Homo sapiens: one gene and its partners. The protein of the gene in region 4 purifies or fractionates together with the protein of the main gene of each other region. This does not show direct contact. Each region holds a gene or a part of one and is shown on either strand. Other genes may lie near its edges.

What was found. Proteins that work in one complex are often made in the same cells at the same time.
Region 1: the proteins of CPNE1 (region 4) and PEX7 purify together in Homo sapiens (co-immunoprecipitation; one large-scale study listed by IntAct). This does not show direct contact.
Region 2: the proteins of CPNE1 (region 4) and VPS4B fractionate together in Homo sapiens (co-fractionation; one large-scale study listed by BioGRID). This does not show direct contact.
Region 3: the proteins of CPNE1 (region 4) and PYGB fractionate together in Homo sapiens (co-fractionation; one large-scale study listed by BioGRID). This does not show direct contact.

What each region holds. Positions count from the first base shown.
Region 1 is NC_000006.12:136,825,592-136,829,091, forward strand, and holds part of PEX7 (peroxisomal biogenesis factor 7), read left to right. Parts: intron 1-727; coding exon 728-878; intron 879-3,500. UniProt on the Homo sapiens protein: Receptor required for the peroxisomal import of proteins containing a C-terminal PTS2-type peroxisomal targeting signal. Specifically binds to cargo proteins containing a PTS2 peroxisomal targeting signal in the cytosol.
Region 2 is NC_000018.10:63,398,477-63,401,976, forward strand, and holds part of VPS4B (vacuolar protein sorting-associated protein 4B), read right to left. Parts: intron 2,564-3,500; exon of another isoform or gene 2,371-2,563; intron 2,228-2,370; coding exon 2,071-2,227; intron 1,721-2,070; coding exon 1,572-1,720; intron 848-1,571; coding exon 766-847; intron 1-765.
Region 3 is NC_000020.11:25,254,585-25,258,084, reverse strand, and holds part of PYGB (glycogen phosphorylase, brain form), read right to left. Parts: intron 1-3,500. UniProt on the Homo sapiens protein: Glycogen phosphorylase that regulates glycogen mobilization. Phosphorylase is an important allosteric enzyme in carbohydrate metabolism. Enzymes from different sources differ in their regulatory mechanisms and in their natural substrates.
Region 4 is NC_000020.11:35,654,901-35,658,400, forward strand, and holds part of CPNE1 (copine-1), read right to left. Parts: intron 445-3,500; exon of another isoform or gene 423-444; coding exon of another isoform or gene 1-422. Other genes in the region: RBM12 (RNA-binding protein 12), read right to left, coding at 1-422.

The DNA.
Region 1 (3,500 bases), on a different chromosome or scaffold from region 4:
GGCGCCATCTTGGCTCAGTGCAGTCTTCCCCTCCTGGGTTCAAGTGATTCTCCTGCCTCAGCCTCCCAAGTAGCTGGGATTATAGGTGCCCGCCACCACACCCGGCTAATTTTTGTATTTTTTAGTAGAGATGGGGTTTCATCATTTTGGCCAGGCTGGTCTCAAACTCCTGACCTCAGGTGATCTGCCCACCTTGGCCTCCCAAAGTGGGTATTATATGCGTGAGCCACTGGGCCCAGCCTAAAAATTTTTTTAATTTTTAGGCCGTAGTCCCAGCTACTTGGGAAGCTGAGGTGGGAGGATTGCTTGAGTCCAGTTCAAGGCTGTAGTGAGCTGTGATTGGGCCACTACACTCCAGCCTGGATGACAGAACAAGACTCTTTCTCTCAAATAAAAAACAAAACAAATCTGAAGCCTGTCTCTTAGTGTCCACTCATAAATTATAAAATTTAAACATAAAAAAATGTGGAGCAGTATACTGTGTACTATTACATTTTTGGACTACTACATTCCACTGGACTGTTTTTTTTAACCTTTCTGAATCTGTTGCCATATTTGTCAAGTACCTACTCTACTTAACTCCCGTAGTTGTGCAGATTACATGAGATATACGTGTTAAAATGTGTGATAAATTGAAAGAAAAAAAACCATAATTGTTATTTTTTTTGTTGTGTAGCTGCCTATGTAAGTGTTGTATTTTTTTGTTGTTTGTTTTTTCCTAGTGTAGCTTTGACTGGAATGATGGTTTGTTTGATGTGACTTGGAGTGAGAACAACGAACATGTCCTCATCACCTGTAGTGGCGATGGCTCGCTGCAGCTCTGGGACACTGCCAAAGCTGCAGGGCCACTGCAAGTCTATAAAGAACACGCTCAGGAGGTAGGAGGGAAATCTTTCTGGGCTGATTATTTTTCTTTCTTCGACTTTGGTTGAAATCCATTTGGGGATGGACACATGGAGAAATATCTTCAGGGGACAAGTTTAAACGTTAGCATTTCTTATACATACTAGATGTCACTTATTATTTGATTATTCAAACATAAAGTACCTCTTGGCCTAAGGAGTGGGGAAAGAAAAGAAAAGGTCAGTCTTCTCATTAGGCAGAAAGAACACCTCCAGCAGTGTACTCTGGCACCATTTCCTCCTGAGAGGCCCATCACTTTCTTTGTGCTCTAAGAATGTGCTTGCCACATGGTGCCTTAAGGTAGAGGTAGGTGGACTTTTCACATAGACATCACAAGATTGCCTTTGGGGCTTCAGTGAGATTCCCGAGGTGTTTCAGAGTATATTGGAGCAAGAGCATAAAATACTGAGTATGAGGCAGAACTTACTGAAGGGATTTTATATCTAAATCTGGTTCATGTGTCTAGATTTTGTGTGTGTGTATGTATAGCATAGAAAATAGTTTGGGCTTCAGTTGTACTAACATACATGTATATTTTCAGTGAACATAAAGACATCCTCTTTTTGTGTTTTTACCTTAAATGTTTTAAGATTTTCCTTAAGGGAGCAGTACATCCTTCAGATGAAAACTTGCTAATCTACTTTCAAATTTTTGTCCACCACAGTGCCTGGCCCGAGAAGGCCCTCAATAAATGCTTATTAGATGCAAGAATATCAGTCTTTTGTGGTAAAGATTAGTTATGTGAGGGGTCCAGATGTTTTATAGCTGTAGCTATTGACAATCAAGATTTCTAAGATTGTTACTGAAATAATGAAAAATTTTAGTTTCTATTTTAATTATGATAGCTATTTGAATAAATGTAGTTGTAAATTACTATGTTTTCAGGGAATTACTGAATATTAAGACAATTTTGGTAAAGGAGAAATTTTAGTTTCAGGATAATCAATGCACGAATCTCTACAGAACAGTATGTCCAAAATTCAGATACTTTTGTGGAACCTGTGTGAATTTGTGTGTGTGTGTGTGTGTGTGTGTGTGTGTGTGTGTGTGTGTGTCAGGGTCTCACTCTGTTGCCCAGGCTAGAGTGCAGTGGTGCAATCTTGGCTTACTGCAACCTCCACCTTCTGGAATGGGCTCAAGCCATTCTCATGTCTTAGCCACCCGAGTAGCTGGGATTACAGACGTGCGCCACCGTGCCCTGCTAATTTTTGTATTTTTAGTAGAGACGGGTTTCACCATGTTGGCTAGGCTGGTCTTGAACTCCTGGGCTCACATGATCCACCTGCCTTGGCCTCCCAAAGTGCTGGGATTATAGGCGTGAGCCACCGTGCCCAGCCAATTTTTGTGTGTGTGTGTTTTTTTGTTGTTGTTTTTTTTTGTAGAGATGGAGTTTCGCTATGTTGCCCAGGCTAGTTTTTGTGATGTTTGACATCTTTTTATACCACTTGTATTATAATGTATTTCTTTTCCTTCTTTCTTTTTTAAAAAATATTTTTCTTTTCAGAAGTTTTTTTTTTCCTTTTTCTTAAATCTTTGGTGCCTTTTATTATCTATATAAATTCAAGGATGATAACTGACATCATAAAATAATATAGCTAGTTAAGGTAAATTCAATATATTGACTTAATGTTTTTCTTTCAATCAAGTAAAGTCGTTGCTTCATTTATCCTAAAACAGTAATATTCATGAAACAATGGGGTTGATGGCTACTTTAGTATGTACATTTATTTGTTTTTAGTGTACATTGAGATAAGTAAGTAATGAATAAAATAAATGTATGTACCAGTTAAAATAATCTCTGGTGTAACTACTCTCTGGAAAATACTGTTCTAGGATATCCTGGATGGATGCTCACTCAGTCTTTACTTCCTGTCAGTGAAAGTAAATTTCACTTTCTCTTGAGATAACTTATTTGACTTTTAGGTTGTTCTGATTATTAAGAAACTGCTTCTTGTAATCCCAACTCTACCTTCTATAGCAACCAACTGCTGCTTTTAGTGTCTTTCTCTGAAGTGGCAAGACCAGGTCCAGCCCCTCTTGTCCAGGAAACCTCTTGAAAATAGCCATCGTGCTCTCTTCCAGACTGTGCACTTGTCATTTCATTGTCCTGTCCTCAGATGACATGATCTGTACGTCTTTCATCCTTCTGATAGCCTCCTTTGATAATCCTGTTTTTCAACTCCCCTTTCAACATATACCTAATTTATTCCAGAAATGTGATGAAGGGCTAAGCTTTATAAGATTTTACCACCATAGTCTTGAGCCCCTAGCTCTAATAATATTACCTAAAGTGGCTATACATTGTTCTCAGCCATGTCTTAGTGTTAGGTTACTTTGAGTCTGCTAGTAACACACTTACCTCTTTTGTTATTTGAACTGCTATTAAACCAGTTTTACATCATTCTGTGATTTTGCAGCTGATTTCTTGAACCGAAGACACACTTCTGTTTTTTAATTTTTTAAATTTGTTTTGCGTACTGCTATTCTAGTTAGACTTCCTCGTTTTCTTTTCAAATGCACTTTTTGGTAAGCGTTTGTATCAGGATGCCTTGAATGTTAGTGTAATAGAAAACAATTAAATGGCTTCAACAGTCAGA
Region 2 (3,500 bases), on a different chromosome or scaffold from region 4:
CCCAAAGTGCTGGGATTACAGGCATGAGCCACCACACCCGGCCTGACATATAGTTTTTACTAAAAAAAAAAAAAATCTTGGCTGGGCACGGTGGCTCACATCTGTAATTCCAGCACTCTCGGAGGCTGAGGCGGGTGGATCATGAGGTCAAGAGATCGAGACCATCCTGGCCACATGATGAAATCTCGTCTCTACTAAAAATATACAAATTAGCTGGGCGTGGTGGTGCATACCTGTAGTCCCAGCTACTTGGGAGGCTGAGGCAGGAGAATCACTTGAACCCGGGAGGTGGAGGATGCAGTGAGCCGAGATCGCACCACCGCACTCCAGCCTGGCAACAGAGTGAGACTCCGACTCAAAAAAAAAAAAAAAATCTTACCTGGTTATCTTATTTTGACTTATAGAATTGCCATTTTGCTAAAATTTTATATAAATGGTTTTTACTGAATTGTCAAACTATGTTTATAAATTTTTGAAGCATCAGTGCCCACCAAACTTAATCAGAATGAAAGGTAAGCATTAGGTAATATATTTTCTAATATGAAAGACAGAAGTGTGTGGAAATCTTGTATATTTGATAAACTAGGGAAACAAACAAGCAAATGACCACCCTTCTCCCACTCAAGGCAGGGGAGCAACAGGGTTAGAGCACATTACAAATCTTTTGAAAAGTTGTTAGAATGCTTCCTGACAAGACAAAAAGAGAATTATCATCTACTTGTTACATCTGCAGTGAGAAATAAGATATTTACTATATTATCCTACCTTCGCCTAATGGCAGAATCCAGAACCCAGGGTATATTTGTAGCTCCCAGAACCAAAATTCCATCATTGTCTACACCAACCCCTGCATTAAAATAGGTAATGCTTTAATTAATTTGTCATTTTGGTGTTCTTTAAACTTCTTCCATATATTCTGTTAAGAAATGTGGTGCTTTACCATTAAAGTGCTTCATCTTGAGAGTCTGTCTTTGGAAAAGAACTGTATTTAATCAAATATCACCTTACGGCAATATGATCCAAATACACTATGATGCAATATGATGCAAATATATGAATCAAATCTCCCAGATTGTGGAAAATACTATTAACATTCGTTTCAAAATATTTCTTGAAAAATTTCATTCGAAGTCTACATATTACTTTTACTGAAGTTGTTCCTGGTACATTATAAATGAATACATTAAATCTCTTTTCTATTTATGTCAGTGAGTCCTACAAGATAATTACAATTGAGTAAAAATTATGTATGCATATGGAAGACAATTGGAATGAAACATGGCAAAATGAAACAGTTTGTTAGAATGGAGAAATTCTGCTTGAATTTTTCATTACTGTTATAAAAATTGTTATAAAATAAACAAAAACGACTTTAAAAATCAGTAACATTAAATTAGCCGGGCATGGTGGTGCGCGCCTGTAATCCCAGCTACTCAGGAGGCTGAGGCATGAGAATTGCTTGAACCTGGGAGGTGGAGGTTGTAGTGAGCTGAGATCGCGCCACTGCACTCCAGCCTGGGCGACAGAGTGAGACTCCGTCTCAAAAAGAAAAAAAAAATTAGTAACACTACCTTGCATTTGCACTAGGAACTCCGTCTTAATTCTACGTGCGGCTTCACTTTCATTTTCACTTCTTGAACCACAGAGAGAATCAATTTCATCAATGAAGATAATGGAGGGCTTGTTCTCTCTGGCAAGTTGGAATAAATTCTTAACCAGTCTAAAAATAAATGAAAACTTTTAAGTCTCTAAAAAATAGTAAAAGATTAAAACAAAGTAATATATCAATATTACAAGAACTCTGTAGATTAAAAAGCCTAATCATGTTTCAGGTACAGAAAATAAGAATGCTACAACTGGATAATTCACTTTATGATTCACTAGGTTGTAGATATATGCTATCTTTTCCCACAAAAGAAATTCTAGATTAGAGACTGATTTGACAGAGAAGTGAGTACCTGTATTACATGACTTCTCTGAATATCTATAAGTGATGTAAGAAATCTATTAAGGAGTGATACAGTAATTACAGGCAAAGAAAAAACTTTAAAAAATTGATTTACTACTTACTTTTCACTTTCACCTAGCCACTTAGAAACAAGATCAGAGGAAGATATTGAAAAAAATGTTGAGTTGTTGGCTTCTGTTGCTACAGCTTTGGCTAAGTAGGACTTTCCTGTTCCAGGCGGCCCAAATAATAGGATTCCCCTCCAAGGTGTTCTCTTGCCTAAAATTTAGATTTAGAAAAATGTCATGAGAATTTTAACACTTAATTGTATCATCTATACTGAGGAATACTCTGGAAAGATTTTCACTCTAAACCTCTAAGGATCAAAACAATATTTTAAAAATAAATCAATCTAAGGTATGTCTTAAATATATTTTGTTTCTTCTAGAGACTACTTTATCAAAAAGAGACTTGCATAACATAAGCCTTCTAACAGGAAGTACATTTGTTTGCTCATTCATTCAACCAATATGTATCAAAACCGTAACATGTGCACAGGCAAAAGGATTTCTGCCCTGCGTGGAGTCTAGTAGGGGAAAAGAGTTCAGTTAAAAGGTACTTTCTGATCATCTACTGTGTACACTGCTTGATACCAGAATATTGTACAAAAATTATATCCATAAAAAATGGGCAGCTGGAAGAGATTTTCTTTGAATATTTATGCTCTTTGGAAAAGTGAACCTAACAAAGTTTGGATGACTTGTGAGTTTCTGCTGAATTCTTGATTCCACAGGAAAGCACAGGTTAGTGTTATAGGTAGCAGACTTTCTTTTATTTTATTTTTTTTGAGACAGAGTCTCACTCTTGTTGCCCAGGCTGGAGGGCAGTGGTGCGATCTCGGCTCACTGCAACCTCTGCCTCCTGGTTTCAAGCAATTCTCCCGCCTCAGCCTCCCAGGTAGCTGAGATTATAGGTGCCCGCCATTACGCCTGGCTAGTTTTTGTATTTTAGTAGAGACGGGGTTTTACCATGTTGGTCAGGCTGGTCTCGATCTTCTGACCTCAGGTGATCTGCCCACCTCAGCCTCCAGCTAGGTAGCAGACTTTCATGGTTGGGTAACAAAAAGGTGATACTACTTTAAATCCTAGTTTTGCCAAAATATAACCAGTGAATACATCAACTCTTCGAGCCTCAATTTTGCTAATGAGCAATTATAATCCTGCCTAAAATAAAACAGGTGGGTTACAGCTGGCAGTAAACTATCAAACATACATTTAAAAAACTATGGCTGGGCATGGTGGCTCATGTATGTAATCCCAGCACTTTGAGAGGCTGAGATGGGCGGATCACCTGAGGTCAGGAGCTCGGGACAACTGTGGCCAACATGGTGAAACCCTGACTCTAGTAAAAATACAAAAATTAGCTGGGTGTGGTGGCAGATGCCTGTAATCCCAAATACTCGGGAGGCTGAGGCAGGAGAATTGCTTGAACTCGGGAGGTGGAGGTTGCAGTGAAACGAGACCACGCCATTGCATTCCAGCCTGGGTGACAA
Region 3 (3,500 bases), about 10 Mb from region 4:
TAGGCTTCTACATTACTGTATAAATTCCAAAGTCCTTTACGTCACAGGAATTACAGCAGCATAATTAATGAGTCCTCATAGCCGCTATAAGTACAACTACTGCTGCTGTCACTCACAGTCAGGCCTCTTGTGGACTTTCATCATGCTGGATTTTATTTACACTACATTTGAACGAACTTAATATTCTATGGGGTTTCCATAGCACCTGCCTCCCCCCTCTGGCAGAGGAAGCCACAGGCACTGTCCAGGCAGGGTTTATTAACCAGTGCGAAATCATACTGAGCCCAACTAGACCCTGGCTATCTGAGAAAATACTGTGGGTCAAGTATTAACAAGAGGTTTTATAAAAAGCTGACAGGCCAGGAACATGACCAGAATGTTTTTACTTTGCCTTTAACTAAAAATGTATATTTTTTTTTAAGAGATGACGGTCTCACTATGTTGCCCAGGCTGGCTGCAAACTCCTGGCCTCAAGTGATCCTCGCGTCTCAGCCTCCCAAGCAGCTGGCACTACAGGTGCATGCCACCACACCTGGCTAAAATGTGGATTTTTAGGTTGTAGTTTGCTCTCTCTGCAAAAGTTCCTAACTTCTACTTAGAACTTTTCTACTGTGGGGAAAAAGTTTACCAGTTATGTCCCAAGAGCTTGATTATCTCTGTTTGTAAGGGACAGGACTGACACGGGAAGTGCTGGGCCTAGACTCGAAGCCTGTGCGTCTCCAATTGTCCAGGTTGCATGCAGACATCGAGGGTTCTGCAGCCTCCTGCTGAAGCACAGCCCCCAAGGCACTGCCCAGGGCCTGCCGGGCCACAGGCTCTGTCCTTGGGGACTGCAATGTGTTTTGCTGCTTTGAGGTTTTTCTGCAACTTGTTTCAATTTAAGAACTTTCATCATTTGCTGAGATGTGTCTATTTTGCTTTTACCTTAATATGGTTCAGAGTGAAAACCATGAAACTGAAAAGAGGCTTGCTGGAGGAGCTGGCCAAGAAAATGCAGACTTGAATGGTACAGGCTGGGGTCTCATCCCAGCTCCCTGCCCTGGCTAGCTGGGTGACCTGGGCAAGTCACTCAGCCTCTGAGAGGACCACATTCACCTGTGGGCTCGCACAGGGCTAGGCTAGGACTCAGGCAAGGCTGGTTCCCCTCACCATACCAGACTTTTCAAGGAGAAATGCAAAGCCTAGAAAGTTGCCAAGTGGCAGTTCTGAAAAAAACCATGTAAAGGCATAGGCTTTGTCCAAGCAACAGCCTAGGGACCTAGCTCTTCCATGACCCCAAATCCTGCTGCTGCAGGACAGCCTCTTTCCACTCACTCCCCTCTGGCTCCTCTTGTGCAACCATGAACAGGGCTTCCCTGCTCAGGGAGCGCTGGTTGGAGAACTGGACTCACCTGCTTCAGCCTGAAAATGCCAACACGATCCCTTAACCTCCCTGCTCAGCAGCTCTGCTCTAAGGAGGCCCTGCCGCCTGGGATTGAACTGGGCCATTGATCTTTCTACCATGGTCCCTTCTTGCAATATGACATAACAAGTGTTAAGTAGCCTAAAGCCAGCCTGTTTTTTGTTTTTGTTTTTGTTTTTTTTTTTTTGAGACAGAGTTTCGCTCTGTTGCCCAGGCTGGAATGCAATGGTGCAATCTTGGCTCACTGCAACCTCCACCTCCTGGGTTCAAGCCAGGCCCTCCACTTTTTTTTTTTTAACAGAGTTTATCACATGCAAAGCCTACACAACCAGGCAAATAATAGAAAAACATAAAGCTCAAAAATAGATGAAAATATGATCAACACGAACAGTACACCAAATACCAATCACCTAAAGACACCTTAGGAGTTAACAGACTCTGAAAAGAGAGTGTAACACCAACTGGCAGAGCCTCATTTTGTTCTTTACAGACAGAGATTCACAGAATTGGGCCTGTGGAGACCACCAATTTTTTCTCCCTTTTCTGAAGGGATTTTTAACTAGAGTCTTCATTTAACGTTAGTGTCTTAATACTCTGGTGGAAAAAGAAAGAACTTTCCCAACATTCAGGGAAACAAAAGAAAGAGCTGGAGCCAGGTGTGATGGCTCATGCCTATAATCCCAGCACTTTGGGAGGCTGAGGCAGGTATATCACTTGAGGTCAGGAGCTCAAGACCAGCCTGGCCAACATGATGAAACCCCGTCTCTACTAAAAATACAAAACTAGCTGGGCGTGGTGGTGCACACCTGTAATCCCACCTATTCGGAAGGCTGAGGCAGGAGAATCGCCTGAACCCGGGAGGCGGAGGTTGCAGTGAGTAGAGATCGCGCCACTGCACTCCAGCCTGGGCAACAAGAGCAAAACTCCACCTCAAAAAAAAAAAAAAGAGTTGGGCGGCTGCTTTCACCAAGATGAAGAGCCTCATTCTACAGGCAGATCTGGTCTGAAACCGGTCCCCTCCTGTCCCCAGGAAAGCACAGCAACTCTCCTTTTGTGTATTCGATTCTGTCGGTGCCAGCATGCCTCAGACCAGCCGCCCTCTACTGGTTCCTACATGGGCACAGAGTGACTCACAGGGCAGAGTGTCCCTCCCTGCCACCCAGGCACTATGGACAGAGCTGGCCCTGATAAGACACAGGAACACAGGCCACTGAGCCAGCCAGAGGCCAGTGGGCACCACGTTCCACCAGCCAGGCCTTGGAGCGGGGGCTCCCAGCCCCTCCAGACACAAAGGGGCCACCTCCCTGGGCTGGACCTGCTGGCTCCTGCTGGTGAGCTGAGCAGTCTCAGATACCATCCAGGGGAACCGAGGTCCTGTGGGAGGAGAGATGTTGAGGGGCCTCCCACCTGCCAGACGCTGAGGTTGGTCTTTGGTTTCCTTGACAGTGTCACAGTGTCCACTCCACTGTGTCTGAGGGGGCTTCTGGGGAGTTGCTCACAGAGCAATCTGATAATCCACTACTGTATCTGCTGTAAGGATGTGAGGATTAGCTAGCACATCTCTCAAGCTCCCAGCCTGTGATGTCACACGGTACTTTCTTAATGAATTAACTGCCAGGGAAACTTGGCTTCCCATGAACAGTGGGCAGGCTTCTCAACGTGGATCGTGGATTTCCTTCTCACTCCAGTACCTACGACTCAAACACAGGTCTGTTTGCTCAATTTTGAAAATGTCAAATGTAAAAGAATTATAGAACTTTAGAACTTATGGGGATCTTAAGAGATCACTTGGTTCTGTAGTAAACAAATTCCTTCTACACTCCATGACACACATTGCCACAAGTCACTGTCTCCCGCCTTCTATGCAATTAAGCTCCACAAAAAGTCTATTCAGTACTAATCCAGAGCCAGAAAGCGATGGGAGCCTTCTCCTTATCACTGACAGAGCCTAATCAACTTACACTAAGTGATCTGGACCGTGTCAAACTATATTTATACCTAGTGAGCTACCAGTCATCGTTTTTAAACACTACTTTAATCTTTCATTTTAACTGTTTGTAGGCCGAGAAATGCCACTTACCTATACCTAAAATTACAT
Region 4 (3,500 bases):
TGAACAGAAGTGGTGGCAGTAACTACACTGGGTGATGGATTATTAAAGTTGGATACTGTTGTGGGCAAGTTTACCCTGCTACTCATTCCTGAGCTAGGTGGTGGTCCTGATCTACTGGCATTTGCTGGTGGTATATCTAAGTTGGCAGTTTCAAAACGCCTACGACTCAGTTCAATCATATTCTGCATTTCCGTCTTACTACTCAACAATAGTGTTACTTTTGACCCTTTAATTGTACCACCTGTGCGCATCATACCAAGCCTTGCATCTTCATCAGTGGCAAAAACGATGAAAGCCTCACCCAGTTCACCCCCTACAATATGCACGCCCCCATCAGGAATGGTCAATCCAGAGAAGAAGTGGCGAATGTCCATGGTCCCCGCCACAATTGGGAGACCTTGCAAACGGATGACCACAGCCATGCTGCGCTGAAACCACACACACCTGCAGATGAGAAAAGGCAACGGCCAGGTCAGACTCCTGTTTATCACACCAAGTTTTTAGCTACAAGAATGACCAGCTACCATATTAGGCCCTCAAATATTCCCTCAAGCTATCACAGGCAATGTCTTTAATTTAGATATTCTAAAAACTGAACATTACGTGCCATTTACAATGTAAAACGTAGACAATTTCAACTTCCAGAAGGCATTAATTTTGGAAACAGTTCAGTCCCAAGACTCAAAAAGTTCAAGAAAAAACAACTGTAGGACAGTAAAATACATATACATCATTCAGACCACTAATCATTCAGTAAGATTTAAAAGAAATGTCTAAGTCAAATCAGGAAACAAAGTTTAACAATCTATAGGGAAAAAACATGCAAAGAATATATAGAAGTTAGTATTTAAAACTGGCTTAGCATCTTCCCTATATACTTGATAATTTCATAGAATTATCAAGAGTGTGATTTTATAGAGCTCAGTCTCAAAATCCATCCAACAGAAGCAAAAAACTAGAATACTAATGAATTGTAAATAATACTTAAGACTAAAAGTAGATTCAAGTCTTAAATGAGAACTGGTTCCATTATTTTATTCATCCTAAAACTTTTCAATCTGCCTTGTACATTACAAAAAACTACATATGGAATTATTTATTATAAACAAGGTTAAGACATACTAAGAAGCCAAAAGAACTACTGAATAGGACAGCTAAAATCTGAGTTACCTTGATTCATTACCCCCAAAAGTAGAACCTGGTTATAGTCCCATTCACTGTGACTATTTTAATTAAAACTCAGGTCCAATGACTCATAACCAAATCCTCTATTTAATAAAATTTTTTAAAGTATTATTTTCCCCTAGGAGAGGGCTGACAATAAAAATATTTTTTGTTTTTGTTTTAGAACCAGAGTGTGAATTACTCAGTGGTTGTTACAGTCTTGGACCTACACAACTCCTACAGGATCTCTGTGATCTCCTTAGATCATGCCTGTTTTGACATAATCAAAAAAGAAATGTTCCCCTCAAATTTCAGTATTTCAGTTCCAAAGGCTTCTAAGAGCAAATTCAAGGGCAGCCCTTTGGAAAGTGACACAAACCGAATTATTGGGCCTGGGAAACATACTACTTTGAAATTAAGGTGGTCAATAACATAGGGTGTTTTCCAACCCATCTGAAAAGTCAACTTTTATTTATTTATTTATTTTGAGACAGAGTTTCACTCTTGTAGCCCAGGCTGCAGTGCAACGGCACGATCTCGGTTCACGGCAACCTCCACCTCCCAGGTTCAAGTAATTCTCCTGCCTCAGCCTCCCAAGTAGCTGGGATTACAGGCATGCGCCACCATGCCTGGCTAAGTGTTTGTATTTAGGAGAGATGGGATTTCACCTGACCTCAGGTGATCCACCCTCCTCAGTCTTCCAAAGTGCTGGGATTACAGGCGTGAGCCACTGCGCCCCACCTGAAAAGTCAACTTTTAAATATAAGCCCATAAAATCAGCTCATGACCCTCAGAAAGGTTATAAATTAATGAAGAGATTTGGTTTTATCACTTCTCAAGAATATTAGAAGGGGCAAGATTTTCTACTATAAGCTCTAAGAATTCTGTAACTTCATTGTCAAATATTATATAAATACTAATGCAACAAAATCTGTAATTATATCTCAATATTACAACTGCCGTATACAAACAAGAAACAAACTGCTTGGCTTTGACAGTTTTCTCACAGACACATACACAAAAATAAAAAGCCACCTTCAAATTTAATCCAGAAAAATGGACTAGCAAACAGAAAATGCTTTTTGTGAGGCCATTATAAAGCACTAGAAATTTGGGAAGTGTGGGGAAGCTTTTCATTTACAAACTTCAAGAGTCAACAAGAAAAATTAACGCTAAAAAACATCACACCAACAGTCTCTTTTCTCATTTACTATTTAGCAGCCTATAAGGAGGTTCATCAAGCAGTTTCCAAGTCATTAAATCAAATTCACATTCCTTGCTCAATCTAGAATATGTGGCTGTATGCAAAATGTGATAGCATTTCCTGTTCAACTTCAAAAAACGGTTAATCACTTTGTATAGGGGAAACATCATGGGCAATCCAGGTACTCAAAACAACTTGAGAGAGAGAGAGAGACTAGTTTGCACTGGGACAATCAAACAGAAACTTGATATAGTCCCAAGAACACAAAAATTAAACACAGGGCTAAAGTGACATACACAGTTAAGTCTTCAAGCCATTTTCTGTTAAGAGCAGGGATTTACTGAAAGTTTGTACAAGGTACACATGAGAATATGCTATTGAAAATCTGCCTCAGATTACCAGCTGGAAAGGGCTGAATATTAAACCAAAGTGGAATACAAGATTTATTCATAAAGCCATCTGATGAGAAAAATTGTTTCTAGCTTCCAAAAAATATGAAATAATATCCGCAGCCAGGTGCGGTGGCTCACACCTGTAACCCCAGCACTTTGGGAGGATGAGGTGGGTGGATCACCCGAGGTCAGGAGTTCAAGACCAGCCTGGCCAACAAGGTGAAACCCCGTCTCTACTAAAAACACAAAAAATTAGCTGGGCATGGTGGCAGGTGCCTGTAATCCCAGCTACTAGGGAGGCTGAGGCAGAAGAATCACTTGAACCCGGGAGGCAGAGATCACGCCACTGCACTCCAGCCTGGGCAACAAGAGCGAAACTCTGTCTCAAAAAGAAATAAATAAATAAAACAAATAAAAATTTAAAAAAAAATTTAAAAAAGTATCTGCTTTTCTGTTACTAAGTAACTGTTTGACAGCTAAGTCATTTCAACCTAACTTGGGCCTATCTTAGTTACTTAAACAAGAGGGTTAGATTCCACTTGCTAAGGTTCCATTTAAAGTCTAAAATTTGTACTCTAAAACATGTGACCCATTATCTATACTTAAACTCTTAGGAAATATAAATAAACATATCAATAACAAGCATCTGTATTTGTAATTAGTCTAAAATGCTACTAAGGAATAAAACTTACTGCCTATCAGGAAAATCACAAGATAAATAGATCCATATAAATGAAATT